Linked DNA regions of Homo sapiens. The protein of the gene in region 4 interacts with the protein of the main gene of each other region in a pairwise test. Each region holds a gene or a part of one and is shown on either strand. Other genes may lie near its edges.

Region 1 (4,321 bases), on a different chromosome or scaffold from region 4:
GACTGCAGGTGTGCACCACCACAGCCAGATAATTTTTAAATTTTTGGTAGAGACGGGGGTCTCTCTGTTGCCCAGGCTGGTCTCGAACTCCTGGGCTCAAGTGATCCTCCCACTTTGGCCTCCTCAAGTGCTGGGATTACAGATCTCAGCCAGTGCACCTGGCTATTTCTCCACTGACTGTTTTCCAGAAGTATGTAGAAGATTTTTCCCTGCTGGTGACATCTCTCATGCTCTATGTGGTGTTATGTCTTTTTTTTCTTTCCAATTCTCACTTTAACAGAGTCCCAGAGGAGAGGACATATATGCTTGTTTAGTTTGCCTTCTTTCGCTGGAAGCTTTAAAATAAGTTTTAAGACTGGGTACAGTTGGCTTATGCCTATAATCCCAGCAGTTTGGGAGGCCAAAGTGGGAGGATAGCTTGAGATCGGGAGCTCTAGACCATCCTGGGCAATATAGTGAGACCCTGACTCTATAAAAAATTTAAAAATTAGCCCCGTGTGATAGTGGACACCTTTAGTCCCAGCTACTCAGGTGGCTGAGTTGGGATGATCCCTTGAGCTCAGGAGTTCAAGGCTGCCGTGAGCTATAAGTGTGCCACTGCACTCTAGCCTACATGACAGGGTGAGACCCTGTCTCAAAAATAAACAAATAAACAAAATAAAATATAATTATGTTTTAAAATAAAATAACATAATGTCTTAACAGTAGATTTTGACATATCTCCATGCTAGCTGGCATCTCGTCATCTTTAAGGGCTGCATAGTATTCTGCAGTATGACTGTACTATAATACGTGTCGTCATTCCCCAGTTAAGTGGTTTTAAATGTATTGCTGTTATCAACAGGGCTCCAGTGAGCATTCTTGTACATATATCTTTGCACACACATACAAGCATTTCCTCAGGATAAATTCCTGAAATGGAACAAGTGTCAAAGGATATAGACACTTCAAATTTTGATAGTTAAAATGTCAAATTGCCTTTAACCATATGTGAGTACTCTCATGAAATGATAAATTCAATATCTGATACCCTTAGGTACTAAGGAAAAGGACTTTCCTTAGTGGAGGTCCAGGAGAAAATCTTCGAGGCAGAGATTAACAAAATCAGTGAGATAGGAATGTGTATAGCTTGTTTATGGAATTAGAATGAGGATTTCCGTAAATTACCAATGAACCCCATAAGACTACACAGGATGGAAGCTTAATAGTGCATGGCTGTTTGATGTCATGTTGCTAAATTCCTGTCCGTTCCCAACTTGTACTGGAGTGACATAAACCATATGGGGCAATTGGAAGAGCTTTCCAAAACAGCTGAGCTTAAAGATCAAGCAAAAGGAGAAAGGATATTCCTGCAAAGGTTCTGATTCCATGCCCTTAAGTATCTCTGATGGTGTTAGGGGCCGATGGGCAGGTAGCCCGCAGGGGTAAATGATCAAGGTGTTGAAGGCGCTCCAGAGAGCAGGTGTTAAACATTTTCGGCCGGGCGAGGTGGCTCACGCCTGTAATCCGAGCACTTAGGGAGGCCAAGGCAGGCGGATCACAAGGTCAAGAGATCAAGACCATCCTGGCCAACATGGTGAAACCGTCTCTACTAAAAATACAAAAATTAGCTGGGCATGGTGGCAGGCACCTGTAGTCCCAGCTACTTGGGGAGCTGAGACAAGAATCGCTTGAACCCGGGAGTTGGAGGTTGCAGTGAGCTGCACTCCAGCCTGGCGACAGAGAGAGATTCCATCTTAAAAAAAAAAAAAAAAAAAAAAACCTTTTCAGGAGGGCCTGAGGCTATGGCAGGAGGAGCAGGAGAGGAAGGTGCAAGCCCTCTCGGAGATGGCATCTGAACAACTGAAGCGGTTTGATGAATGGAAGGAACTGAAGCAGCATAAAGAATTCCAGGACTTGCGGGAAGTAATGGAGAAGAGGTGAGTCTCCCTGAATTATGACTGGGAATGTTGATGTGTTCAACTGGAACTCTTTCCCAAGAGGAATTCCAAAGGGAAAGAGTTGAACAACTTCTGAGTCCTTAAATATCAAGGTAAAATAGGCAGAGAATTTTATAACCTGGAAAAAAGACCAAACTTGGAGAGACAACCAAAGGAACACAAAGAGGGAGGCTTTTAGGAGAGGTAAAACAATTTTACGGGCGTGGTGGAACACAGCTGTAGTCTCAATTACTAGAGAGGCTGAGGCAGGAGGATTGCTTGAGTCCAGGAGTTTGAGGCTGTGGTGAGCTATGCTCTGCAGCCTGGGCAACATAACGAGACCCCATCTCTAAGAAAAAGGGAAGGAAGGGAAGGGAGGGCAGGGAGAGGGAGAGAAAAGAAAGAAAGAAAAACAATTTCAGGAAGTATCCCTGACTATTCCTCCCTGCCATTTTTCATGCAGCTCCAGAGAAGCCTTGGGACACCAAGAGAAGCTAAAAGCTGAGCACCGTCACAGAGCAAAGGTCAGAGCCTGGCAGAATTGGTGTGGGTGTTTTGGTGTCTGTCTGTAACCTGCCTGGAGAGCCAGGTTTTGGCAGATGGCCACCATGGAGGATCTGGGCCGTATTATGCCTGTGTATGACTAACCTTGGGATGTCCTCTTCCTGCTCTGAGCCCATCTGTGAAAATATGTAGCCCACGTAGAATTTGAGGACTGTAGAAAGAAGAAGCCCAGGAACCCCTCAGAGAGAAGTCACTCAGCCCTTTTCTACAGATTCTCAACCTGAAGCTGCGGGAAGCAGAGCAGCAGCGCGTGAAGCAAGCAGAACAGGAGCGGCTTCGGAAGGAAGAAGGCCAGATCCGCCTGCGGGCCCTCTATGCTCTGCAGGAGGAGATGCTGCAGCTCAGCCAGCAGCTGGATGCCTCTGAGCAGCACAAAGCCCTGCTTAAGGTCGACCTGGCTGCCTTCCAGACCCGAGGCAACCAGCTGTGCAGCCTCATCTCAGGGATCATCCGGGCCTCTTCAGAGGTGAGGGGGGCTTCAGAGTGACTCTTTGCTGTCTTTGAAATGGAAGCCTTTAAAAGCAAAACTGTTTTCTGACTTAAAAAGTAATACCTGCTATCTGCTTATTGGGGGAAATACCAAACATTACTTGTTATCTCCATATCTCTTTACCTAGAAGTAACCACTGTTAACATTTTATTTTGTTTCTTTTATTTATTTCTTTATTTTTATACCTGCTTATTCTGGAGTCTTTTTTTTTTTTTTTTTTTTTTTTTGTGATGGGGTTCCCCTTTGTCACCCAGGCTGGAGTGCAGTAACACAGTCTCAGCTCATGCAACCTCTGCCTCCCGGGCTCAAGTGATCCTCCCACCTCAGTCTCCTGAGTAGCTGGGACTACAGGCGCATACCACCATGCCCTGCTAATTTTTGTATTTTTTTGTAGAGACAGGGTTTTGCCATGTTGCTCAGGCTGGTCTCTAACTCCTGGGCTGAAGTGATCCCCCTACTTCGGCCTCCCAAACTGCTGAGATTACAGGTGTGAGCCACGGTGCCAAACTTTTTTTGTTTCGTTTTGTTTTTAAATTAGCAATAGAGATCTCACTATGTTTCCCAGGCTGGTCTTGAACTCCTGGGCTGAAGTGATCCTCCCACCTTAGCCTCCCGAAGTATTGGGGTTACAGGCACGAGCCATTGTACCTGCCCTGTTTCTTTGCTTTGCTTTTTTTTTTTTTTTTTTTTTTTTTTTTTGAGACAGGGTCTCACACTCTTGCCCCGGCTGGAGTGCAGTGGTGTGATCATGGCTCACTTCAACCTCCGGCTTCCAGGTTCAAGCGATTCTCGGATTACTTGAGGCTAGGAGTTCGAGACCAGTAGGTTTCAGCCAACATGGTGAAACCCAGTCTCTACTAAAAATACAAAAATTAGCTGGGTGTGGTGACGCACACCTGTAATCCCAGCTACTTGGGAAGCTGAGGCACGAGCAGCACTTGAACCTGGGAGGCAAAGGTTGCAATGACCGAGATCTTGCCACTGCACTCCAACCTGGGCAATGGAGATTCTGTCTCAAAAAATAATTATTATTATAATAAAACAGTATTATTTTTGTCTAACATATTGTCACAAACTTTTTAAAAAATTACGCTGGCCCTTGTTGCTGAGAATACAGACCAATTTATACTTAGAAACTATGGATGTGACAGTAAGTTGGAATTATTAATACCTTTAAGAGAACAGGGAAAGAAGTATCAATTCGTTGAATGTGGATACTCCATTGGTGCAACAATTCCAATTGCAGGAAATTTATTGACTTGTATGAGGTATGATTTACCTAGGGAATGACCACTAAGCACCATCTCCGTCACTCTGACAGAGCAGCTATCCCACAGCAGAGAGTCAA
Region 2 (3,246 bases), on a different chromosome or scaffold from region 4:
GTGAGTCCTCCCATCCCTCCTCCGCGCTTCGCGCAGGCGCCTTCAAGCGCGAGGGGGGCGGGGCCGGGGGAACGTGAGGGCGCCGATGGCGGGGGCCTGGGAGGAAGGGAGGAGGAGGGAAGCAGGCGTCAGCACGTGACTCGGCCCTGAACCTGTGTCCTTAGCTGGCCCCGGCTGGCTGGTGCTTAAAGGTACAGGCGCCTCCTTTCGAACCAATCTTCTGGAACCTTAGAGCAGCTTCTCCTCCTCTTTCCAGCGAGTAGCTCTTAGACTCTAACTTGAGAGCTTTTCAGTGCAGTAGATTCTTTTTCTCTGGACAGTCTGGGGTCTAAGCTTAGGTCGTGGATTCGGTAAGTAGGATTCAGGCTAGACTGTGCATCTGAAGTCCTGAGGTTTTAGAAGCAATAGCCCCATCGCTTCTCGGCCTTTTGGCTAAGATCAAGTGTAGAAGCAATAGCCCTGATTCGTGTGTTACCTAGGGCAAGTCAGTTATGACTGGGACTCAGTTTCCTTGTTTGTAAAGGTGGATATGGCTCCATGATCTCTAAGCATCTTTATGGCTTAGGGGAACCTTCATTTTTCTCGTTATTTTGGAGACGGAGTCTCGCTCTGTTGTCCGGGCTGGAGTGCAGTGGTATGATCTCAGCTCACTGCAACCTCCACCTCCAGGGTCCGGGTTCAAGCAATTCTCCAGCCTCAGCCTCCCTAGTAGCTGGGCTTACCGGCACCCGCCACTACACCTGGGCAATTTTCGTACTTTTAGTAAAGATGAGGTTTCTCCATGTTGGCCATGCTGGTCTTGAACTCCTGACTAAAGGTGATTCGCCGCCTCGGCTTCCCAAACTGCTGGGGTTACAGGCGTGAGCCACTGCGCCTGGCCAAGGGAACCTTCATATTTTATATTAGGGAGATTAATCCCTGGCCGAATTTATGCTAGATCCCAGAAGGACTTTCCATGTGGCTATGATACCACAGCAAAAAGTAGCTTCAGGAAACCCCCTCCTTAAAATACACACTCAGCTGACACGTGCTGTTTCCCCAAGGCCTGACCTCTCGGGACACACCCAGCCCTGTGGACCCAGACACCGTGGAGGTGTTGATGACCTTTGAACCCGACCCAGCTGATCTTGCCCTATCAAGCATTCCTGGCCACGAGACCTTTGACCCTCGAAGACATCGCTTCTCAGAAGAGGAACTTAAGCCCCAGCCAATCATGAAGAAGGCAAGAAAAATCCAGGTGCCGGAGGAGCAGAAGGTGAGCAGAGCTGGATGTGGGAGATAGACTTGGCTGGAGACATGCCCCACAGCCAGGGAGGGGCCTTTTCTCACAGTCAAGCCTGGGCTTCTCCTTGGGATTAGTGCTCAGCCTCTCCTGGCCTGCAGCCACAGATTAGTCCTCCTTGGCCACGGGGCACAAGGGGGCAGGGGCCTGAGGTTTATAAAGACAGTGTCAACTGGGCGAGGGGCCTCACTCGTGTAATCCCAGCATTTTAGGGGGCTGAGGCAGGAGGATCTCTTGAGCTCGGGAGTTCAAGACCAGCCTGGGCAACATGGCAAAACCCCATTTCTACAAGCCACTTGGGAGGCTGAGGTGGGAGGACTGCTTGTGCCTGGGAGATTGAGGCTGCAGTGAGCCAAGATTACACCACTGCACTCCAGCCTGGGCAACAGAGGGAGACCTTGTCTTAAAACAAAAGACAGTGTCACTGTGGGGTGCTGACTCAGCCAGCTCTGCTAGGTCTACTTGTAGAGACTTGGAGCTTCTCCTATTACTTGGGTCCAGAGCTCCACCAGGCACACTTGCAAAGGACAGTCTTCCTTTGGCAATGGGATATCAGCCTGTGGCCTGTCTCTCCTTACTCAGCAGGCCTTTGATCTCTGATGTGGGACTTCCTTTGGAGTGATTGCATTTGGCTAGGATGAAGACTGTGCCAGCCCCTTTAGGCCTTGTTTCCTGGGCCTGGACTTCTCACTGGTGGGAGACTTCAGGCTTCTGTTAGCAGCCAGTGCCACTTTCTGATTTGGGGTGATTTGAGCAGTCATTGCATCTTTGCATGATTTTGTTTTTTGCCATTACTGGAGTCTTCCCTAGCAAGAGTTGCTTGGGCTTCTGTTACAAGACTTTGTCATTCCGGGCCAGGCGCGTTGGCTCACGCCTGTAATCCTAGCACTTTAGGAGGCTGAGGTGGGCGGATCACTTGAGGTCAGGAGTTTGAGACCAGCCTGGCCAACATGGTGAAACCTCGCCTCTACTAAAAGTACAAAAATGTTCCGGGTGTGGTGTCTCACACCTGTAATCACAGCACTTTGGGAGGCCGAGGCGGACAGATCACGAGATCAGGAGACCATCCTGGCCAACATGGTGAAACCCCGTCTCTACAAAAAAATACAAAAATTAGCTGGGCATGGTGGCACTCATCTGTAGTCCCAGCTACTTGGGAGGCTAATGTAGGAAAATCGCTTGAACCCAGGAGACGGAGGTTGCAGTGAGCCGAGATCGCGCCACTGCACTCCAGCCTGGGCGACAGAGTGAGAACTCCATCTCAAAAAAAAAAAAAAAGAACAAAAATTAGCCGGACATGGTAGCGGGCACCTATAATCCCAGCTACTTGGGAGGCTGAGGCAGGAGAATCGCTTGAACCTGGGAGGTGGAGGTTGCAATGAGCCGAGATCATGCCACTGCATTCCAGCCTGAACGACAGAGCGAGACTCCATCTCAAAAACAAACAAGACTTTGCCATACCCTTGCGTAACACATAGCTACTTGAAGCACCTAGGACTGGCCTGGAAGTCAGATCTACACCAGTGGTTTCTCCTTCTAGAGGGCCCTGTTGCTAGGGACTGGATTTACCCTCACAAGCAGGAACTGGGCTTTAATTAAATAGTGGAGTAGAGAGCATCTTTCTGAGCCCCGTGGTCCTTGGTTACTAAGGAGGAGTCTTCCTTAGGAACCAACTTCCAGGATGGGAGGACTTTAGGTATAATCCTCTGGGGAGGTCTCAGGATAGTCCCCTTTCCTAAGAGACAGCTCTTCTCTCAGTCAGGTCCTACTGGGGAGGAGGCTATTCTCTGGCCTCAGTTCAAGGCCAGCAGGTCAGAGGCTGGCCACAGTCATTGAAACCACTTAGACCTCACTTTTGTTTGCCAAGGATGGATGAGGTTGCCTTGGCAACCAGGTCAGAAGGCCCCAGCTCTGCGAGGATTTTATGGGACACCAAACCCCATCACCAGGGCACCAAGCTTTCC
Region 3 (4,321 bases), on a different chromosome or scaffold from region 4:
GGTGCTTGTTGAATGAATTTAAAATATCCATTAGAAAAGCAGGAACACACATTTGAGAGCTACGCAATCTTCTGCTGATCCTGGGAGTAATAGTAAATATCCTGTAGTATGAGAAACGGCCTGGAGGTGACGCCCCAGTCTACTGCTGTACTTTCTCAAAACCACAAAAATGTAAGTGATAGGTATACTTAAGCAAGTGGAGGTCTTTGGGATTCTATAAATAGAAGCATTTGGAAAAAGCCAAGTAATTTTAAGGCCCTGTCAAACTATAATTGGCACGAGGAAGCATAGAACAGATGAAATAAGCAGAAACAGCCCACTGAGTGTGCAGTTCCGTAGTCAGCTCCATCCTGCTTCCAGTGGTGGGTCCTGGCAGTGCTCTCCAGCCTGGGAGTCCCCGGCTCCTCCTCCTTTAGTGTCGCCATGGCTGATCGCTGGACAGCCAAACAAACAGAGGAGCGTGGCACAGAGGAAGGGAACAGATAGTTAAGTACTTGGACAGAAGGGCAACAGTTCAAGTATTAAGATTTATGTTCCTTAATTTCTTCTTCTTTATGCGAAGAATTTTAGCATCTCTAAAGAATGAGGGTCAAAAAGATGCAGAAACAAGAAAACTTAACCATTACTTAGACATTACTAGATTGTAGGACAGACAAAAATGTCCCATCCAAGAGTAGCGCTCATGTTTTTTGACTCAAGAAAATAGGAAGTTTACTAACTGGCTTCCAGGAAAGGCCAAGGAGAGAAAGCCAATGGGAAGGAGGGCGGGGCAGAGGGACCCACACCAGGAAACCGCTGGCAGGTGGGGGATGGGCCTCCCCAAGGCTACAGGCACGGCTTCAGTCAAAGATTCATTTCCTTCACTCAGCAAGTGTCTTCCACAAGAACTGCAGCTCCTACATACATTAATACATTTCTTTTACGTGTGAGGCTTCTTCAATTTACATCTTACTTCCCTGAGAAATGGCACAGACATACCTACAAGCAGTCATCACTCTAGTCAGTGTCAATACTGAAAGGCAAGTTTTCTCTGTCTTCCAGCAAGACCTAATCTACAACAAATTAAAGAGCGCATTTCAGTAAATGTAAACACATCACTTGGTCAATTTTCACAGTGATCATCAATGATGGCAGTCTACAGAACACAAGAAATGCAAAGCCACCCTTCCTTTTGAAATAAGCTCATCTGCCAATCAGATGTCACTGATTTTCCATGCTTGTCTCGCCGCAATTCTCCTCAACCGCTGAACTGAAATCTCCACTTCTGAATTCCTCAAAACAGTAAGAGGGCAGTCAATTGGACGCTTTCACTAAAGTCAAATATTTACAATGAAAATCACTTGTCTTGGGTGGGTGCAGTGGCTCACACCTGTAATCCCAGCTACCAGGGAGGCTGAGGCAGGAGAGTCTCTTGAACCCAGGAGGCGGAGGTCACAGTGAGCTGAGATTGTGTCACTGCACTCCAGCCTGGGAGACAGAGCAAGACCCCGTATCCCCGTATCAAAAAAAAAAAAAAAAAAAGGAAAAAGAAAACCACTCATCTTGACATTTTTCATTCTTGAATAGAGGAATGGCGGATAGATCTGTGGTAATCTTCTGGATTGCTGATGTGTTCTGGTAAATCGTAGCCCCTCAGGAAATGTCCACTGTTTTGTTGAGCAAAATAATATAGTTGTCTGGCTAGCAGAGGTTCTACCTTTAATAAGAGATTTTAAAAAGACATTACTGAGATATCCTGCAACTGGCTCACTATTAAACAGCACTCAGATTCTAAGGAGACAGTAACGTAAAGCCCAAAGTTACATCCTAGAACACATCAAAACATTTCATATTTGGAGCCATCTAAAGAAGCAATTTTTTGGTTAGTCCTTCCATAGATCAACATGTAAAAAAACAGCCAAAGTGACTTAATTCTGGGTTAAAGATGTTACTTTCAAATCGACTGCCACTTAAAATGTACATTTAACTAAAACTGCATCAAATCAAGTAAAGTGATCAAATTAAAAGGAAGTCTGAGGGAATCTGCAGGGTAATTTAGGCCAATGATTTTGTTTTTCCACAACTGCAGTTTGAAAGAAACAAGGAGCTCATCCTGAATGATTTGATTTCTAGGTAATCTGTATAGTTCTCAACCAGAGGTAAAAGAAATAAAAAGTAAAGTTAAACAACAACAAAACTACTATTGTGGAAAAAGAGAAGCTAACTGGCCTCAAATTTATACTGTCTGGTTATTAGCGTGGATCACACTCACCAAAAAACAAAAACGCCTTAATGTTCAGCTTTTCCTGAATTTACAGCATCTAAGGCAAGCTGAATGCTCTCCATCAATCATGATATTAGAGACTGTATTTTATATATGACGACTTAAGCTAAACTCCTAAGTACCTGAAATGAATTAAATTAATAATTTTTAAAAGTGGAACTCATAGGTGTACACGTGTGTTTATTCATTTTATGGACCACGCAGCCTCGTCTTCAGCATGAGGGGGTCATCTGGGGATCCATCTTTCCCTGACTTAGAGGACAGTGACTTGCATCCATGTCAACTTTAAAACTGGATTGATGTGATAGCTGAGCTGATCATCAACTTCTTTTTTTGTTTTTTTTTTGAGACAGAGTCTCACTCTGTCACCCAGGCTGGAGTGCAGTGGTGCAATCTCGGCTCACTGCAAGCTCTGACTCCTGGGTTCAAGTGACTCCCTTGCTTCAGCCTCCCGAGTAGCTGGGATTACAGGTGCGCACCACCACGCCCGGCTAATTTTTGTATTTTTAGTAGAGAGGGGGTTTCACCATGTTGGTCAGGCTGGTCTCGAACTCCTGACCACATGATCTGCCCGCCTCAGCCTCCCAAAGTGCCGGGATTACAGGCGTGAGCCACTGTGCCCGGCCGATCATCAACTTCTTAAATGCTGCTTATCAATGCCAAGTTTATTTAGTCATTTAGCAATTCCTGTTGTTAACAATGTATCAGTTATTATTTCAACAATCATATCAATTATTAAGTCAATCACTGGAGAGAACTCATGAGAAAACTCCTGAGTCTATGGGATTATATACTGGTTGGTTGGCTGGTCTTTGTTTTTAAAATCAAGAAGGGGGGTTGTATGTTCAAGATTAAACCATGTTTCATTTCAGTTCTCAATGAGAAATAGCATCAGAGCTAGAACATGATGAGAACTTTGATGTTAGGGGGTGTAACTTTTACCTGGTATTGCTCAGCATGCAAGCCCGTTAATAATGCTTGCAAGTATGTAGCAATGTGAAGTTTTCAAATTCAAAAGTCTTAAGGGTTCAAGATTCTGTTTCCCATGGCAAATTAATGCTTCATGTTATCTATGGAAACCTTTTCTCATAAAAAAGAAAACTCTAACCCTAATCCTAACCCTACCCTTTTAGTGTTACTTGCCACAGTTGAACCCATCTTGAGCTATGCTAGAGAACATTACGAGAGGGTCTGATTTGCTTGAATTCCTTGAAAGATTCAGCCTCTTTCAAATATCATATGCCCAATAATTAAATAATTTCTAAAATTCCAGAAATAAAAGAGGTGCTAGGACACAGCTGCAGAGACCTACAAAATGCCTCCAGGGAATGGATAGTTTCTCATTTGGGAAAAGCTTTTCCATTGAATGAAGATCCACTAGCTAGATAGCATTCTTACAGCAATCTTAACCTGGAGAATTTTAAAGGGCAACTTTAACCATCAATCTTTTTCAATCCCTATAAAATGGAAATACGACAACTTTCCTGAAAAATAAAAAAGATGGGGAAAGAGGCACCCTCCTTTGAGGCTGTCCTCCCTGGTTCTTTGATGAGCAGATCTCAAGTCTGGGAGGAGCACGTGAGTCCTCAGACTGTGCTGCTCGTTGGACCATGCTTCCTCCCTCACTAGTTTAAGGGTTACGCTTATTTTTCCAGGTCATTTGACATTTACTTTTCATTTGGGACTTTTCTAAATGAAACTCTGGCCTTTACAAAGAACAGGAAGCCACTATGGTAGGAGTGTAACTGAGGACTCACGTGAGCTGTGATGAGCTTTCTTTGCCTCTGAGGGTCTGGAAACTCCTCTCCAAAGCATAGAGTCACCTGGAATCTTGGCAGGGAGCGGCCGTGGTGAGCAAACGCTTGCAGCTCTGTAGAAGCCCACAAGAAAGAGACCATGTTCAGAAACCCTCATCACCGAACACACCAGGTTAAACAGGAAGCAAGAGCTTACTGTGATTCTGAACACTGCAAGAGGAATGAGCACTCTTACTCCGCTGAGTGGGGCTCTTGATGTGAACATCTCAGATACAAAATAGCATGTATGCATTCCTTTGGG
Region 4 (4,321 bases):
TTGGGTATTTCCTGGCACATCCCAGAAGGAGGGCATCCCCTCTTTACCGAAAGGTAAGATCAAGCAACACGATGAGACTAGGGGGTGTTGGTAAGACGGGAACTGGGGGCCGGGAGTCCTGGCTCCTTCCTCTAGCCCTTTTCTTCGCCCCCTCTGAGAGTTTCCACTGGTGACAACATTTACTGTAAATTCTGTGCTCTGAAGAGCCTGGGCAAACCCCGAGGCAGAAGGGAGGGCCACTCTGACCTTCTCCCCGCCTAGAGGCTGGCCCAGCTTTCGGGAAGTGACAGCGGGTCCTTCCTCCCTAAGCAAGCTCTGCTGAGCTCACTCTAGCTCTGTCGTCTGCCTCCCCCTCCCTGGCTTGCAGATCCCAGAGCTCTAGGCAAAGTTTGTAACCGCTGCCTGCTGCCTCTAACCAGAAAACCACCGCCAGTGATAAGAAACTTGTCTTTACCTTGGGAAGCAAGAGTGCTTCCTGCTAGGGCCCCCAAGAAACCTGCCCTGCCAGCCCAGGGACCGTGCAGCCAGCCTGACACTTATGAGAGAAAGGGTTTGACTTCCCTTGCAGGAGGAAGTGGCTGATCTGGGGCCTCGTCCCTCCATGTCCCTGCTATTGCCCAGTCCCCTCTGGCCCTCCTTGGGGCAGTCATGCCCTGGAAAGGGCTCGCCCAGCTGAAGGGACAACTGGCAAAGGTGGCATGAGAGCAGCTGTTTATCCAGAGGTACAACAGTGACATCCCCTAACAATGAGGGCTGGACACCTAGAGCACAGTGAGGCTGGGAGGAAATGCAGCTTCTCCCATATGCATGTCTTCTGCTACTGAGAGGGGTGGGGGTGAGCCTGCATTTGGGCATCCATGTACCCATCTTTCTCCTATTCAGAATTCATCCAGGTCCATCAGACTCCTCACAATAACGCTCTGTGTGGGATAGGGAAGGTCAGCTGTTATTATCCCCACTCTACAGATGAGGACAACTGAGACCCTGGGACAAACCTATGCCACATACCCTCCAAAATGACCACAGGCTGGTGACAGCTGTGCTATAGGATTCACCTCAAGGCACTTGTTTTCTCAGAAGTTCAGAAACTTTGAGTGTTTGATGCAAAGACTCATTGCCCGCGAGGGAGGCGCAGAGCAGGGCTTGGCTCGGGGCCCTGTGTTCCTTCTCTCACACTGACTGCTTCCCCCGAGAGACTGGAGACTTGAGTGGGCAAAGGTCTCCCGAGAACACTAGAAAGTTGGCCAGGTGCTGTGGCTCACGCCTGTAATCCCAGCACTTTGGGAGGCTGAGGTGGGCAGATCACTTGAGGTCAGGAATTCAAGACCAGCCTGGCCAGCATGGTGAAGCCCTGTCTCTACAAAAAATACAAAAATTAGCCGGGCGTGGTGGCGCATGCCTGTAGTCCCAGCAACTCCGGAGGCTGAGGCAGGAGAATCACTTGAACCTGGGAGGCAGAAGTTGCAGTGAGCCAAGATTTTACCATTGTAGTTCAGCCTGGGCAACCCAGCAAGACTCTGTCTCAAAAAACAAAACAAAACAAAACAAAAAAATAAGTCCTTGGCTACCCTGTTGTCTCCCAGGAGAAAGCTGGGTCTCGGTTTTGGTGACCCACACACAACACAACACAACACAAGATCCCTGAGTCACTCACATTCTTCCAATCATAGAGCTGACCATCTGCCTCCTGGGCTGCATGGAGAGGGGGTCACCTGGCCAGATATTCTGGACAAGGGCTGACTCGAGGCCAGACCTTCCTCCAGACACAGAGCCAGGTCCTGAACTCATGACCACGGTGAGCTCCATCAGCGGTAAATGGGAATAGGAACTTGGGCCCTGGTCCTGGCTGGGTGATCCTCAGTGACTCGATTTCCCTATTCAGCTCCAGTTGCCTCACTTTAAAATGGAAAGACTGGACCAAAACAATGATTCTCAACCTCATCCACACACTGGGGTCCCCTGGGGAGCTTTAGCAATCCTGATGCCTGATTCTGATCTAATAGGTCTAAGGTGTAACCTGGCTCAATTTATACGAAAAAGGTGGATAGAAACCAAAATTTTTTTAAAAAAATAGCCTAGGTTAACTTAACTATCATTTATTTGTTTATTTAATTTTTGAGACAGAGTCTCTCTCTGTTGCCCAGACTGGGAGTGCAGTGGTGCAATCTCAGCTCACCGCAACCTCTGCCTCCCTGGTTCAAGCAATTCTCCCCACCTCAGCCTTCTGGGTAGCTGGGGTTACAGGTGCCCGCCAATACACTTGGCTAACTTTTTGTATTTCTAGTAGAGACGGGGTTTCACCATGTTGGCCAGGCTGGTTTTGAACTTCTGACCGCAAGTGATCCGCCTGCCTCAGCCTCCCAAAGTTCTGGGATTTCAGGCGTGAATCATCCATGCCTGGCCAATAACTAACATTTATTGAATACTTCCGTGTGCCAATCACTCTTTTAAGTATTTTATGGTTATCATTACATTTGATATTTTCAACAAACTTGTGTGGTAGAAAATATTATCTCCGTTTTACAGAAGAGGAAAAACAGAGGAACAGAGAAGTTAAGTCACTGGCTCAAGATCACGCAGCTTGGAAGTTGCAGCACCGGTACTTGAATTGAGGCACTCTGGCTTCAGAGTCTGTGCCCTCCATCCTTTCTTGCCTTTAAAGTCTGTTTAAACGTTATACTGTTTGACAGTTCTCTCCTATGAGATAATTCCTCAGCCCCGGTGGCTTTCCAATTTTATCTTCCCTCTTTTCCCACCTCAGGCAAATCCCTCACCTGTGGGGTCATTTGATGCCACCTACCTCTACCATGAACCGCAAGCAGCTTGGGGGTGGCTAAGGAAGAGGCTTCCTGGGGGCGTGGGAACATTCTGGGAAATCCCCTACTGGAGGGGCTTAGGAGGGGGTCACTCACAGAGCGCTTCAACGATGGGGAATCCCCAGGCAGTTCCCTCACCCGCCGGGAGCCATTAGGGACGAAGACCAAGGACAAGGCTGGCATTTCCTAGCTGGGCCCTGGTGGGGACTGTCCAGGCACCCTGAGCAGGGCTGAGGCTTCCTCCCTACCAGCTCCAGTTTAGTGTCTTGGCCTTCTCCTTGCATTTTCTAATCACAATTTCCAGAAGGGTGAAAATAGTCCCTGTGTATTTTCTCCTCAACAGGACATGTAATCATGTATTGGCAGGGTGACCTTTTGGCTCCCACCTACACTTAAGTGGCGTTCGAAGCTTATCCCTCACACCCAGATATATGTTCAGGCTCCATCAGTTACCAGCCCCTGTACGTCACATGCAGAGGGTGGAGCCCGCCATTCCTGGAGCAGGCTTCCAACTGAAAAGTACGACTCTTCCCAAGCAGCGGGAGGATCTAGGCCCACATCTCCCACCATTCCTGGGGAAATTCACCCCAACTGCTGCCTCTCACCTTATGAAAGGAGAAGAAGAATCACCAAACCACAGATCTTTGCGCTGAATAATGCACGTGTGTGATTCTGGAGGAACCTTCACTTTCATGTCTTAGAGCTGAAGCTCTAGGGCCATAAGCACCTTTGCATTTACAGAAGATTGGCCACATCAGCCGTGCCCTCAGGGACCTGTCTAGTCACAGGGTGAAAAGGCTATCGCCTGGTCCTTGGTTTTCAAGACTATGATTTCATTGCCCTCAAATGTGAAAAAAACTATAGTTTGGTTCATTCAGCGTCCATCCCAAACCCCTTCTGCCTTGCCTTCCTCTAGAAAGACTGGGAAAAGAATTGCTAAAAAAAAAAAAAAAAAAAAAAAAAAATTCCAGCTTACCTTACCTTGTAGCTAGGGGTAGCCATGTGACAGAATTCTGACCAAAGATACGTAAGCAGAAGTACCTGATGGGCGGGAGGGAGGTGAAGGCAGAGCTTCCCTTCCTACCAAAAAGGCACAGCCTGCTCATAAGGACAAAGGCTTCCTTCCTTCAACATAGACTGATGCCGAGAGGCTCGGCACCCATCTCACAGCCTAGAGAATGAAAGCCTCATACTGAGGATGGCTGCTTAGAGAGAAGGAGCTTGGTTCTTCCTTGCTGTAGCCTGGTCTCTCCACTTTTGAACTTCTTGTTACATGAGAAAAGTAGGCCATGATTTGTTGATTCCTCATTTGATGGCTGGTCTCTCACTTGTCTCTGAATGCATGCAATCTTGGCTGATACTGATGCTTCGAGTTACAAAGGTTACCACTAGCAAGATTATCAATGTTCAAAACCAAACAACAAAACAAATAATAACTGCCATCAAAGCAAGGGTTTGAATAGTTTGTTTGTTTGTTTGTTTGTTTTTTGAGACCGTGTCTCGCT
Region 5 (4,321 bases), on a different chromosome or scaffold from region 4:
CAATCTCTGTCTGTGTGTAACTCTTTAACTCAAATATGTTTTGAAATTGGTTTCTAGAAATTACTTTCCTGTCTGATCACATTTAATGCAGTAGAAAAATAGAGCACATTCAAACACAGTACTTGACCTTTTTTTTCACTAACATGTTGAGATGAATAGGTTAACATTACTATGCAAATAAAATGCATGATGTGTGTGGTATATTTTTGGTGATCAGTAGCCATATGCAATGTGCATGTTAAATGATTGTGCCTATGTTGACTTTTCTGAAGTCTGATGGTTCCAGTAATCATTGATAAAAGTGACTTATGCTTATGTATTTTATTTTTTTAAGATTTTCCCCTCCCTTTAATGTAAGTTAAGAGCCTTCTGATGAACTTAGATAGACAAACCCTTTGGGTGTGAACAGAAGAGTCACATTTAGATTTGACCTACTAATTTAGTCATGATGGACTTAAGCTAATACATGTACTTTACTTACTGTAATGTGATTTTTGAGATCTTTTGGGAGGTGGGAATTAAGGGATAGGCTAGAAACTAGTAAAATTATGATATAATAGAGTCCTTTTAGTAATTCTGATATTACTAACAGTGCCTGAAACAGGCCTGCATTATGTCTAGTTTTGTATTACAAGTGGGTCATTTTAGTGTGAAATATATTTGTACATAGTAAAAATACTAGTCCTCTAGGTATACATGTGGGGGGCAAAGGTAAAATAGGAAGTAATGCCCTCTGTGGGGACATAATGGTTAACAAATATGTAAATTTTAATCTTACAAAAGGAATTAGGAGTATTTTCTCTTAAACCAAGAGTCTTCCTTAGTAGAGTACTTTTACTTCACTTAGGCTAGATCCCTGCTATAGCCTGTAAAATTGGTGCTCTAAAATATATTAAATGTGAATAGAATTTGAATGTGCTACCAACTCTAATCAATATGAATAGACACCCTTGAAAATAGTAACACTAAATAGGCAGAATTTATAAGTTTCTTGCTTTTCATTCAGTGTAAATCTTACCTGGCATTTTTTGTAGCCTATACATGGACACTGAGTACCTATGTTAATGTACATAGTAGGAGTACATATTCGAGTAAAGTTGAAATGTTTCATGTTGTAAGAAAATAGAGTAGACTCTTTCTTTACTCCTTAGGAATTAAGCTAGAACATTCTGGAGGCATGTGACTCACACATATTCCTTGTACCTAGCTTGTAAAATGCATTAAATTAGAAAATTAGTTTCAGTAGATAGTGGTAAAAAGAGGGTTTGTTGTTTTAGGGCTGTTTTAACTTTTTTTTTCTTTCTTACAATATTTTTATCTACCTATTAAAGATTGTTTTATCTTAGTTTGCTTTCATAATAGAGTATGAACAGCTAGTGGAAGAACCAAGTTAAAGCAGATATACATGCTCTTATCCTAGTTTTCCCCAAATTTCATTTATTTAAATAATTGTAGTTTTTAATAATGTAAATTTAAAAAATTCTTTATACTGTGTTAGATAATAATAGTTTATCTCTTGAGTAGAGGATGTTTATGCCATTCTACTCAGAAAGAAGCAGTGGACTAAGGAGCAAAAAGGACTTCTTTCCTACTTTCATATTTCATAGTTCTTAAAGTTGGAGGAAATACGAAGTACAACAAAAATTTAACCAAATTTTGTTTGTTTTAAAGGAAGAGGTCTTTCCAAAGAGAGAATTAACAACTGACTGAACCAGTCCTGCTAATTTGTTAACTTAGTAGCTATATTTTAGAGTCTTAACATATTTAAATATGCATGATTACTTCTTGACATTTATTTCAGATCAGACCCCAACACCAACAAGATTCTTGAAAAACTGTGAAGAAGTGGGTTTGTTTAATGAGTTGGCGAGTCCATTTGAGAATGAATTCAAGAAAGCTTCAGAAGATGACATTAAAAAAGTATGTTGTAACCATGAAATTTAAAAAGAGTACTTCTGACAGAAAAGTAATCATAGTTTATACTTCCTGCTTTTTAAATTTAGACACACTGTTTTTGAACTTATAACCTTTTCCTTATTATTTGAATTATAGATGCCTCTAGATTTATCCCCTCTTGCAACACCTATCATAAGAAGCAAAATTGAGGAGCCTTCTGTTGTAGAAACAACTCACCAGGATAGTCCTTTACCTCACCCAGAGTCTACTACCAGTGATGAGAAGGTTAGAAATTTTTAGAAATACAAAGTAAGGGGGAGGAACAGTACCCAAATAAAGTTTACTATTTAATCTCCATAAAATGTTAATGTATTAAATTCAGTGTCAGCTTGCAATAGTTTTATATGTGAAAGCCTGTCAATACTCAGATATTTCAGGGTAAGAAGACTGCAGCTTTTATTGTACATAGAAAAATTATAGGGGAGAACAGTCATGTTACATAAAACTTATTTTTAAAAGATATATAAATTTATAAATTTAACTTAATTTTTCTGTGTTTTGCTATTTTATATTTAGCTACTTTTATACAGTAACAGCTTAATTAAGAATCTATTCAAAAAATTATTTGAACAGTGGTTTTTTAGACTTTTACAGGATTAAGGGACTAGTTACTCATTCTCAGCAGTGGATCTTTGTTAGCGGCAATTAGGACGATGATGATACTAGCTTGAATACCCAGATAATCTGGGACCACCTGGGCTACAGTTGTGTGTTGAGTAACATTATTATGGGAACTTCTTGATCACTCTTTTGTTCACAAGCACATAGAATAAGCACATATTTATTTGGGAGTACCATGCAGGACACAGCGAAGGGCAATGGGACACATAAAGAGGCAGTGGCAATATTCTTTTTTAGATTGTTATTCTAAAACCATACTTATTAATGGACTTCTGTCATGGCAGAGGAGCTAGAAATAAGGAAATACAGAAAAAATAACTTTTTGGCTAAGAATAAATGCTTTGTTTTCTGTTTTTTTTTCTTCATTTTCTTTTTCTCATTTTAAAAGTACATTCTCATTCTTCTTCTCTAAGAATACAGAAACATGAAAAGAAAACCAAAATCACCTATTAGCACATAATTGAATAAGAATTACTATCTTGAAACATTTTTTTCTAGATATATACATTTATAGGTACAAATACATAAGTGAATAGTTAAATAGAAGGATAGATGGATATAAAGATCCTAGCTTTATTTTATATTGTGCTTTAGACCCTCAGTATTGATGAATATTTTCCCATGTCATTAGAGAGTTCCCCAAATCATACTTTTTAATGATTGTACTTTATTTTATTATATGATATGTATATGTATTATGTTATCCTGTTCTTTTTGGACATAAAGGTTGTTTCCACATTATTACAGTTATTGGAAATGCTTTTTAAATCTCTGATACAAATCTTTTTTCCTAGAGAGCATTTCATTCTTTTCACACTTAACAGTTTTTCATTGTTCGTGGCTGCTTCAGCATCTTTTAGGAGTATTCCTTCTTTCTGCATTCCCCAATCATTAGGCCCTCCTTGAGCAAGGTATACCATATGAAATTGATTTAAAAAAAAAAAAATCTGGACCTCTTCTTCTTTCTTGATTTTCTTCCTAGGTGATCTCATCCAGGCCCATAACTTTAATAAACATCTACATACTGATGACTCCCAAATTTCTATGGGCATAGGTATCTCACCAGATTGCCAGATTTATATCCAACTCCATCTTGACATTACCTTTTCTATGTCTAATAGACATCTTAAACTTAATAGGTCAAAATCAGAGTCCTTGATTCTTCCCCCAGTTTTCCCCATCTCAGTAAATTTTCTCCATCCATTTAGTTGTTCTAGCTGAGAATTTAGGGGTCATCCTTAATTTCTTCTTTCTTTTACACTGAAACTAACAGCATATTTTATCAGACCTGAATCTCATCCTCTATGTCTGTGTTCAGTGACACCACGTAAGCCCAAACCATCATCATCTTTTGTTTGGATTATTAACAGTTACCTTCTAACTTGTCTTCCTGCTTCTACCTCCAATCCATTTTCTGTAAGATGACTTTTAATACATTAAATATGTCACCTGCTTAAAATCTTTCAATGGTCTACCATTGTATTTAAAATAATTCACACTCCTTGGCATAAGCCCTCTTTGATCTGGGCCTGTCTACGCATCTATCCTTACCTCATGCCTCTCTATTGTGTTCATCAAATATTCAAAGCTTTTTCCTACCTCAGGACATGACATATATGGTATTGCTTCCTTCTCCCTACAATGAAATGCTCTCCTCCTCATCCTTTTATCATCAGTTCGAATGCTGTTTTTGCAAAGAAGCTCACCTATTCTTACTATGCTGTCTAAATTAACTGACTCTTCC
Region 6 (4,321 bases), on a different chromosome or scaffold from region 4:
TCTTGGGAGCAGCGCCGTTGGGGCCCCCTGTCTCTCCACCCCATGTCTCCACCTTCAAGACAAGGTAAGTGGCAGATACTCAGCTGTACCAGCAGGGCCGAACCGAGAGGCACCCACTAGTAAGATAGCTGGACCCCCAGGGAGGCCCCTGCCCCTCTCCCCAGCCATCTGATACCCCATTTAGCCCTTCTCTGAGCTCAGACTTTGGGGAATCACCTCAAGCCATGTGAGGCCTAGTGTAGGATGGGTTTTTATCTGGGCTGCCACTGAGGGCAGGCAAAGAAGTGGCTTGTTGAGAGCCCTGTACCTCAGTGTCTCCCTTCGGACCACCACCAGAGTGCCTTTCGTATCTCGGTTCATCATCTGAGCCACACAGAAAATTGAGTGATGATTTTCCCTGGTTGAAAACAGCAAAAAGATACCCCTGCCTCCCCTTGCCTTTTGGCTGCCCCCGGGTCCTCGCCACTGCAGCCTCTCCCAGCTGTGCCTAGGCTCCAGAAATGCCTTCCCATCTCCCCAGCATGCTCATTTCACCAGCTGCGAGCTCACTGGGCTAAGGCACAGGGGTTGGTACATGACCTGCCACTCCCAGGGGCCGCTGGTACTTGCCCTTTATAGAGCAGCCAAACTAGTTTTCAGTGGGAGCAAAAGGCAGAGGAGAGACATGGGCAGAAGAAACCCTCCTAAGGACTAACATTGCCCAGCCAGGCAGCCATCCCCCAGACCAGGAGGCTTGAGCCCTTCAGCATCTTATAGCTGAGGAAGGAGACAGAGCTCGAGCTCGGCCTGCAGGTGCACAGCCTGCCTCTGAGACTCTGCCTTTTGGGTCTTTGAGTCATCACAGGCATCAGCATTGGGACTGGAAGGGCCCCTAAGATGAGAAGGCACTGAGTGGCATGTGGCTCCAGACTCCCTCATAGCCTGCTCTCTCGGGCTTGGCAGGTCTGCAAAGGGTTTTGGGGCTCGAGGCCCAGACGTGCTGAGTCCGGCCATGGTAGCCCTCTCCAACAAGCTGAAGCTGAAGCGACAGCTGGAGTATGAAGAGCAAGCCTTCCAGGACCTGAGCGGGGTGAGTCATCCCCACTGGCCACAGGGGCCTCTCCATAGCCCTTAGGGAACCCAGGGCTGCTGAGAGGGGTGGGGATGTGGCCCTTCCAAGCCAGCATAGCCCTTAGGGAACCCAGGGCTGCTGAGAGGGGTGGGGATGTGGCCCTTCCAAGCCAGCAAGTGCCAGCCCTGTTCCAGGCCCACCCAACCCACCCAGTCTGGGGACCTGGTTCTCTGGCCATTTCCCCTTTCCATCTGCCCTTCTTACTCCCAGGGGGACCCACCTGGTGGCAGCACCTCACATTTGATGTGGAAACGGATGAAGAACCTCAGGGGTGGGAGCTGCCCTTTGATGCCGGACAAGCCACTGAGCGCAAATGTACCCAATGGTGAGCAGCGGCCACAGGCCTGGGCCTCCTGGGGGTTCTGGTGGAAGGACTGGGGCTCGGGAGCCCATCCTGGTTCTTCCATTCACCACAGGCCGTACCTGCCTCTCTGAGCCTTGTTAGAATGGGGCGATGTCCTCTGTCTCTCCCGCAGTCCCACACACCCAACTTTTCCATCTCCACTCTGACTTAGATGATGCCATCAGAGGGTCCTGAAGGTTGGCTGTAGTTCTGGTGACTCTGAGCACCTTTTATAAAGGAAAGGGATGCTAGGGCTTCCTGGCCTCTCCCCTCCCTCAGGCCAATGCTACCGTCACTCTCTGACTTTGGTCTTTCAGATAAGTTCACCCAAAACCCCATGAGGGGCCTGGGCCATCCCCTGAGACATCTGCCGCTGCCACAGCCTCCATCTGCCATCAGTCCCGGGGAGAACAGCAAGAGCAGGTTCCCCCCACAGTGCTACGCCACCCAGTACCAGGACTACAGCCTGTCGTCAGCCCACAAGGTGTCAGGTGGGTGTGCCCAGGATCTGTCACCCCCATCCCAGGATTCGATGCCAGGGGAAGCCCACGTCTACTTTTTTTCCAGCGTCTGCACAGTGCCAGGCACAGGGAGGTGCTTGACTTGAAGTCACCTATACAGGGCTCAGGTCTCCTTGGATTTAGGGAACCTCCTCACAAGTTCCTTGTGACATCAGTGATCAGGCCCCCCAGTGGGTGGGTCTGAGACACAGCTAAAAAACTCAAACTCAGGCTAGAATACTGAAGGAAAGAATGCAGACCACTACCGACTGCCCAAAGAGGACTGAACACTGAACACTGGGTTGGCGACCCCCAGAACACTGTACCACTGTTGACAGGAGCACTTTCAGAAGAAAGAGCAGGCGGCCACAGTGGTGAGGGCCTGTTGAAGAAGAGAAGAGAAAGTTCAGAGAGAGAGAGTTGGGAAGCGGTCTGGGCAGAGGCAGGGGATCTCCCGTCTATGCAAGGATGAGCTTGCTGCGTGGAGAAGGGAGTGCTCCTTCCCTGGGGCTTTAGGGAGAACCCTCCCATGATCAGGTGCCATCCAGGGCTCTTTCCACCCTGAGAATCCCGGAGCCTTGCCCCTTCCTCAGTTCTTCATGTGGATGTGTTTTGGGGTGTCACTCTGAGTTCAGGCAGGTGCTGAGAACATGCCAAAACTTCCTTCAGGTAGAACAGCCTGGAAAGCTCTGGTAGGCCCACCCCACTGGACTTGGTTCAACTGCAGGCACCAATGCCTGCCTTCAACCCTGGGCCACCTTCATCTTGACAGTATCTTGTGAAACATATATGTCTTCATGAGGTTTGTTTGGCCTGAAAATAATTCGTGGTTTATGGAAAAACATACCAGGCCCCTGTTCTAAAAGGCAATTTCCTCAGCAATAGAGTTTGGGGAAGGTTATAGTTCTGTGCTTCAGAGTCCAGGCTGTAGAAACACCAGACAGCCCTGGCTTAAATTCTGGCTCTGCTGTTGAGTTCAGGGGCTGGTATATATTTATGTGCAGTAAGAGGTAGCCAGCACTATTCTTCCTGTTATGTGAAGCCCACGAATTACCTTGAATATTGAAATCAAGGGAAAATCATATTCTTTTCAAAAGAGTTGAATCATATCAAACTCTTTTCTGACCATGAATAAGAGAAGTTAGCAAGGGATGGTGAGCAGGTATCCATTGATACTGTCCACAGGAGCAGTCAAGCTGGGGAGGCAGGCATGGACCCCAGCAAGGATCTGAGCTAGGAGGTGCAGGAGGCAATGGCCACTGGAACGAGGCTCTGCAGATAAGGGAAGGTGGGTGGGCATCTCCCATCGGAGGGGCAGAATGCAGGGCTTCCAGGCTCTCTGCTGCCACCTAAGCCTTTCCTCCTTGGGATGGGGGCCTGTGTGTGTGCTGCGAGTGTCCCCCCTGCCACTCCCTGGTCTGCCTCCTCGGCAAGAGAATAGCACAGAGGCAAGAAGAAAGGACTGCTGAGGGTGGTGACCAGAAACTGGATTTTCAGACTGTTGAATCTTGAGGCAGTCTGTGTTTGCATCTGTATGTATGTGTGTGTTCTGCATGTTCTGTGTATGTGAGCATAGGTGCCAGGTGGTTCAGCCTTTCCTCCCTGCTGCCAGGAGGCATGGGGGTCAGCAACCCCAGGCTCTTCCTGAAGCTTCCACATACCTGTGCTGCAGCCCGCACCTCACGCTTTCCTCTTTCTTGGGTCTCAGCACCCCACCTGAGGCAGTGGTTCTGGAGGCAGACACGTTCCCCGGGCATGCAGCAGGCCGTGGGACAGACACCACTGAAGGAGCAGAGTGAAATTAGGGCTGCTCTATTGGTATCCCCCAGTCACAAAGAAGTAGACACTTTTCCAAATGTTCGATTTAGGCCTTTAAGTTATGGTACCAACCCTTCTTTCAGGCATGGCAAGCCGGCTGCTCGGGCCCTCATTTGAGTCCTACCTGCTGCCCGAACTGACCAGATATGACTGTGAGGTGAACGTGCCCGTGCTGGGAAGCTCCACGCTCCTGCAAGGAGGGGACCTCCTCAGAGCCCTGGACCAGGCCACCTGAGCCAGGCCTTCTACCTGGGCAGCACCTCTGCCGACGCCGTCCCACCAGCTTCACTCTCTCCGTCTGTTTTTGCAACTAGGTATTTCTAACGCCAGCACACTATTTACAAGATGGACTTACCTGGCAGACTTGCCCAGGTCACCAAGCAGTGGCCTTTTTCTGAGATGCTCACTTTATTATCCCTATTTTTAAAGTACACAATTGTTTTACCTGTTCTGAAATGTTCTTAAATTTTGTAGGATTTTTTTCCTCCCCACCTTCAATGACTTCTAATTTATATTATCCATAGGTTTCTCTCCCTCCTTCTCCTTCTC
Region 7 (4,321 bases), on a different chromosome or scaffold from region 4:
TTGAGAACTGGCAATGACGGAGAAACTAAAAGTGCCAGGCTGTTGCCTTGTTCCTGTTATTTTGCCTTAGTTTTTTTTTTTTTTTTTTTTTTCTCTGAGACTGAGTCTTGTTGTGTTACCAGGCTAGAGTGGAGTGGCATGATCTCGGCTCACTGCAACCTCTGCCTCCTGGGTTCAAGTGATTCCTGCCTCAGCCTCCCGAGTAGCTGGGATTACAGGCGCCTGCCACCGCACCCGGTGAATTTTTGTATTTTTAGTAGAGACGGGATTTTACCATGTTGGCCAGGCTGGCCTCGACCTCCTGACCTCATGATCCACCAGCTTCGGCCTCCCAAAGTGCTGGGATTACAGGCGAGAACCACCGTGCCCGGTCTTGCCTTAGTTATTTCTTGTTCCCTCCTCTAGTCCTATAGTTCTCTGACTGTATTGAGGAAATGTAATTAAATATTATTATGTTAATAGATATTTATGTGGTTGAATATTAGAAATTCCTTATTTTGGTCACATATCCTGATCAGTAGTTGGTCTTCTGGAGATAGTGATTTTTCACTAGAGATGACTTTAGGACCTATTCAGGTTTTTTTTAAGATCCCAATTTAAGGAAAGACTATTCTCATTATTGATTTTGCTATATGCAGGGAAATTTATTTCGAAAGGTTTTTCAGTTGGCTTTTAGGGAAGATTATATATTCTCTTTTTTTTTTTTTGGCCTTTTCCCACATGTTCTAAAAATGATATATTCTTTAACTCCTATGAAAATACATTGTTTCAGTAATTGAAGATGCTGATTAAAGTCATATCTCTACACATTTTTTAAAATTTGAGATAGATGGGACTTTGTCCCTTCTTACACCATTCACTTATTCACTTGGAAAAACTATTATCCAATACTTATGTGGCAGACACTGTTTCTGGCACAAGGGATTCAGCAGTGAACAAAACTGCCTTTTTGGAGTTTACATTCTACTAGTGGAAAGCGACAACAAGCAGATAGACACATTCAGTATATAATTCACTGTCAGATGGTGGTGGTAAGTCCTATGTAGGAAGAAAAGCAGGGTAAGGAGGCTTGGAGTAACTGGAGTGAGTCATAGATGGACTTGTCAGGAAAGGGTTTCTGAAGAGGTGGTATTTGGGCAGAGATCTAAATAAAATGAAGCAACAAGCCATGAGAATATCCGGGGGAAAATGTTCTGGGCAGAAGCATCAAGCATAGAACTTGTGGTATGATATTTATTCTAGCACACATTAATTTTAAAAATGTATAAAAGACATCCATTTAATCATATTAAAGATTTCCATGATTCATTTAGACTTAGTCAGAAACCAAATTTATATTTTCTTTTTAAATAATTTTATCTCAACTCTTATTTTACCCAATAGGGGCCAGAGTTACTCAGCAAATACATTGGAGCAAGTGAACAAGCTGTTCGGGATATTTTTATTAGGTTGGTAGCCTATGAATGTTTTTAAAGTAACTGACTCTGTTATTATTTATCAATCAGTGCTTTTTTTGGTCTTGTTTTTTGAAGAACTGATATTTGAAACCTGTGGTTTATGTGAATTATTAATAAGCTAGAGGACGTGGATTCTCTATTTCATCAAATAATACAAAACATTTTAGATATTAAATTTTGGAAATTATTTGGTTTTGTTTTACAATAGAAATACTCCTCAAAGTGGAATCGAAGTGGTTATTCAAAGAAATCTCAGAGTAGATTCTTATATGAAGCAAATAATTGCCCCTAATTTATCTCTAAATTTTGTAAGTTCTAAATTCTTTTTTCCCCCAGTTTCTAATTTATCTCTTATAAGTCAAGAGTCCATCTGGCCAATTTAATTTCAGTGAGTGTAACTATTTTGCATATATTAAAAAACTGTATATGAATACAGAAGATGGTATTTAAGGATGAAAATAATTATTCAAATGTGATAGCATTATGGGGAGTTTTAAAATAAAAGTTACTGTTTTATTCTTCCAAAAATTTTATTATAAAGTATACAGTTAAGAGAATATACATAAAATACATATGCAGCTTAAGGAAGAATAATAAAATGAATACTTCATGTATTCACCACCGAGTTTACCAGGAAAAAGCATAAACAAAATAAACCTCTTCCACGTAATTCCTGGGTTAAAGAGAAGTTATAGTGGAAAATATTTGGGAGCAAACGATAATGAAAATACTATCCATTAAAATTGTTAGATGTTGCAAAACTGATTTCAAGGAAAATTTATAGTGTTAAATGTTTAGAAAAGAAAAAAGGTTAGAAGTTAACCACTTATGTATCTATCTCATGAAATTAGGAAAATTATAGATATAAACTAAAAAATATGTTAAAAGGGAAATAATAAAGATAAGAATGAAGTTTAATGAAACACAAAACAGAGAAGCTCACAAAGCCAAGATTTATTTTTTGAACACCGAGTACAATTGACAAATCTCTAACAAGTTTGATTAAGAAAAAAGAAAGCATGAATAAACAATTTTAGGGATAAAAAGGGAAACATCGCTAAAGATATCCCAGAAATGTAAAAGATAATAAGGGAATATTATGAAAATATTCATGCCAATACATTTGAAAACTTAGGTGACATAGACAAAAACAAAATTGACCAAAATTGAGCAAAAAAGAAACAAAATCTGAGTAGTCCTGTAACTTAGTAAAAATTGAGTTAGAAAAGTTAAAGAAGTCTTTACACAAATCAAACATCAGACTCAGTTTTCTAGGAGAGTTTTGCCAAACATTCAAGTAGCAGATAATTCTGGTCTATTTTTGGCCCCAGAAGATATATTTTACTTGCCATGCATTTAATGAGATAGCTGTTGATTTTTTTCAATCACCGTGACAGGTGTTTTATATTAGGTGTTATTCGCCAGACATCTAGTCCACCTGTTGCCAGATATGGAATTAATATTCACTTATTTTGAATTAAAATTTGTTAATAAATTAATAAAACAAAGTCAAAGTTCAAATTATTAAAAAAGTAAAAGAAATAAAATATATTTTATAGAGAGCCCTTACAAAACAGTACCAACATAATGAGCTTTCCAAATTTTGAATGGGCAAAATAAATGAATAGGCATTTCACAAAAGAAGGAAGGGTGGCCAATAAGTATATATTAATATAAAAATGGTTACTTGTAATAGGAATCAAAAGTGTTTGACTTATTGACTAAGAGTCAGTTTTTGTTTTGATCCCTGTTAGTCTATCCAGAAGGCATGGGTCTTAATAAACACCTTGACCTCAACAGTTTACTGAATACAAGGGTAATTTCATATGCCTTGCCTTCTTTAAGGGTTTGTTGTAAAGATTAAAATAAATACATAAATATATATAAATACATTTATATGTATTTATATGTAATTACATACAACTTGCCTTCTTTAAGGGTTTGTTGTAAAAATTAAAAGAAGTATATAAATATATATAAATACATAAAATAAATACATTCATATATGTATATGAAATCACTTTGCCAACTATGAAGCCTGATTCAAATATGAAATGTTGTTTGTTTTTCCCAGAGCACAGGCTGCAAAGCCCTGCATTCTTTTCTTTGATGAATTTGAATCCATTGCTCCTCGGCGGGGTCATGATAATACAGGAGTTACAGACCGAGTAGTTAACCAGTTGCTGACTCAGTTGGATGGAGTAGAAGGCTTACAGGGTAATAATTATAAATACAGAAATAGAATGTTATAACAAAATGTCATCATGTCATCAGATTTTGGTAAAAAAATGTTCTTTTTTCCTCTAGGTGTTTATGTATTGGCTGCTACTAGTCGCCCTGACTTGATTGACCCTGCCCTGCTTAGGCCTGGTCGACTAGATAAATGTGTATACTGTCCTCCTCCTGATCAGGTGACAATTTCATATTTAGAGTCCAAAACCCAACAAATGCTACACTCTTTCCTTGTGAGCTTTACTTCTGCCAGGTAATGGCAATTGTCCTTAGAAGACCAGCTTTCTTAGGGAAAAGCTTTAGCCACTGTTTGCTCAAAGCATAAAAAGATTCTGAATTAGATGCAAAGCCTTTTTTTGGCCCAGTGCAAGTCTGAAAACTTTGTAATCCTTCTGTGTTGGCTGATTGGGGAAAAAAAAATGCAAGAAACCTAATGTATTATATTTTCACATTATCTTCTGTTCAAAGATTACATACTTCCATTATCCTGTCAAAAAAAAAACTCTGATACAGAATCAAGCATGTGAATCGTAAGCATGTAAGCAGGTTTCATAGAGATAATTTTTCAACTCTTCCTTGTCCTGTGTTGTTCCAACTCTTATTCTCCAATTTAGAAGCAAACAAATAAATGA

Evidence for each region.
Region 1: the proteins of BATF (region 4) and GLE1 interact in binary tests that used the Homo sapiens proteins (3 or more experiments, as listed by UniProt).
Region 2: the proteins of BATF (region 4) and DBP come close enough for resonance energy transfer, tested with the Homo sapiens proteins (one large-scale study listed by BioGRID and IntAct).
Region 3: the proteins of BATF (region 4) and IRF4 interact in a two-hybrid assay, tested with the Homo sapiens proteins (one large-scale study listed by BioGRID and IntAct).
Region 5: the proteins of BATF (region 4) and ATF2 come close enough for resonance energy transfer, tested with the Homo sapiens proteins (one large-scale study listed by BioGRID and IntAct).
Region 6: the proteins of BATF (region 4) and EPAS1 come close enough for resonance energy transfer, tested with the Homo sapiens proteins (one large-scale study listed by BioGRID).
Region 7: the proteins of BATF (region 4) and PEX1 interact in binary tests that used the Homo sapiens proteins (3 or more experiments, as listed by UniProt).

The regions. Positions count from the first base shown.
Region 1 is NC_000009.12:128,520,898-128,525,218, forward strand, and holds part of GLE1 (mRNA export factor GLE1), read left to right. Parts: intron 1-1,770; coding exon 1,771-1,919; intron 1,920-2,382; coding exon 2,383-2,443; intron 2,444-2,692; exon of another isoform or gene 2,693-2,694; coding exon 2,695-2,949; intron 2,950-4,294; coding exon 4,295-4,321. UniProt on the Homo sapiens protein: Required for the export of mRNAs containing poly(A) tails from the nucleus into the cytoplasm. May be involved in the terminal step of the mRNA transport through the nuclear pore complex (NPC).
Region 2 is NC_000019.10:48,631,453-48,634,698, reverse strand, and holds part of DBP (D site-binding protein), read left to right. Parts: intron 1-1,043; coding exon 1,044-1,255; intron 1,256-3,246. UniProt on the Homo sapiens protein: This transcriptional activator recognizes and binds to the sequence 5'-RTTAYGTAAY-3' found in the promoter of genes such as albumin, CYP2A4 and CYP2A5. It is not essential for circadian rhythm generation, but modulates important clock output genes.
Region 3 is NC_000006.12:404,830-409,150, reverse strand, and holds part of IRF4 (interferon regulatory factor 4), read right to left. Parts: intron 4,134-4,321; coding exon 4,021-4,133; intron 2,386-4,020; exon of another isoform or gene 2,252-2,385; intron 1,697-2,251; coding exon 1,553-1,696; 3' UTR 1-1,552. UniProt on the Homo sapiens protein: Transcriptional activator. Binds to the interferon-stimulated response element (ISRE) of the MHC class I promoter. Binds the immunoglobulin lambda light chain enhancer, together with PU.1.
Region 4 is NC_000014.9:75,538,885-75,543,205, reverse strand, and holds part of BATF (basic leucine zipper transcriptional factor ATF-like), read right to left. Parts: intron 1-4,321. UniProt on the Homo sapiens protein: AP-1 family transcription factor that controls the differentiation of lineage-specific cells in the immune system: specifically mediates the differentiation of T-helper 17 cells (Th17), follicular T-helper cells (TfH), CD8(+) dendritic cells and class-switch recombination (CSR) in B-cells.
Region 5 is NC_000002.12:175,115,850-175,120,170, reverse strand, and holds part of ATF2 (cyclic AMP-dependent transcription factor ATF-2), read left to right. Parts: intron 1-1,801; coding exon 1,802-1,920; intron 1,921-2,052; coding exon 2,053-2,181; intron 2,182-4,321. UniProt on the Homo sapiens protein: Transcriptional activator which regulates the transcription of various genes, including those involved in anti-apoptosis, cell growth, and DNA damage response.
Region 6 is NC_000002.12:46,380,654-46,384,974, forward strand, and holds part of EPAS1 (endothelial PAS domain-containing protein 1), read left to right. Parts: coding exon 1-64; intron 65-942; coding exon 943-1,069; intron 1,070-1,321; coding exon 1,322-1,436; intron 1,437-1,771; coding exon 1,772-1,945; intron 1,946-3,855; coding exon 3,856-4,007; 3' UTR 4,008-4,321.
Region 7 is NC_000007.14:92,493,840-92,498,160, reverse strand, and holds part of PEX1 (peroxisomal ATPase PEX1), read left to right. Parts: intron 1-1,383; coding exon 1,384-1,448; intron 1,449-2,391; exon of another isoform or gene 2,392-3,531; coding exon 3,532-3,674; exon of another isoform or gene 3,675-3,764; coding exon 3,765-3,868; exon of another isoform or gene 3,869-4,321. UniProt on the Homo sapiens protein: Component of the PEX1-PEX6 AAA ATPase complex, a protein dislocase complex that mediates the ATP-dependent extraction of the PEX5 receptor from peroxisomal membranes, an essential step for PEX5 recycling.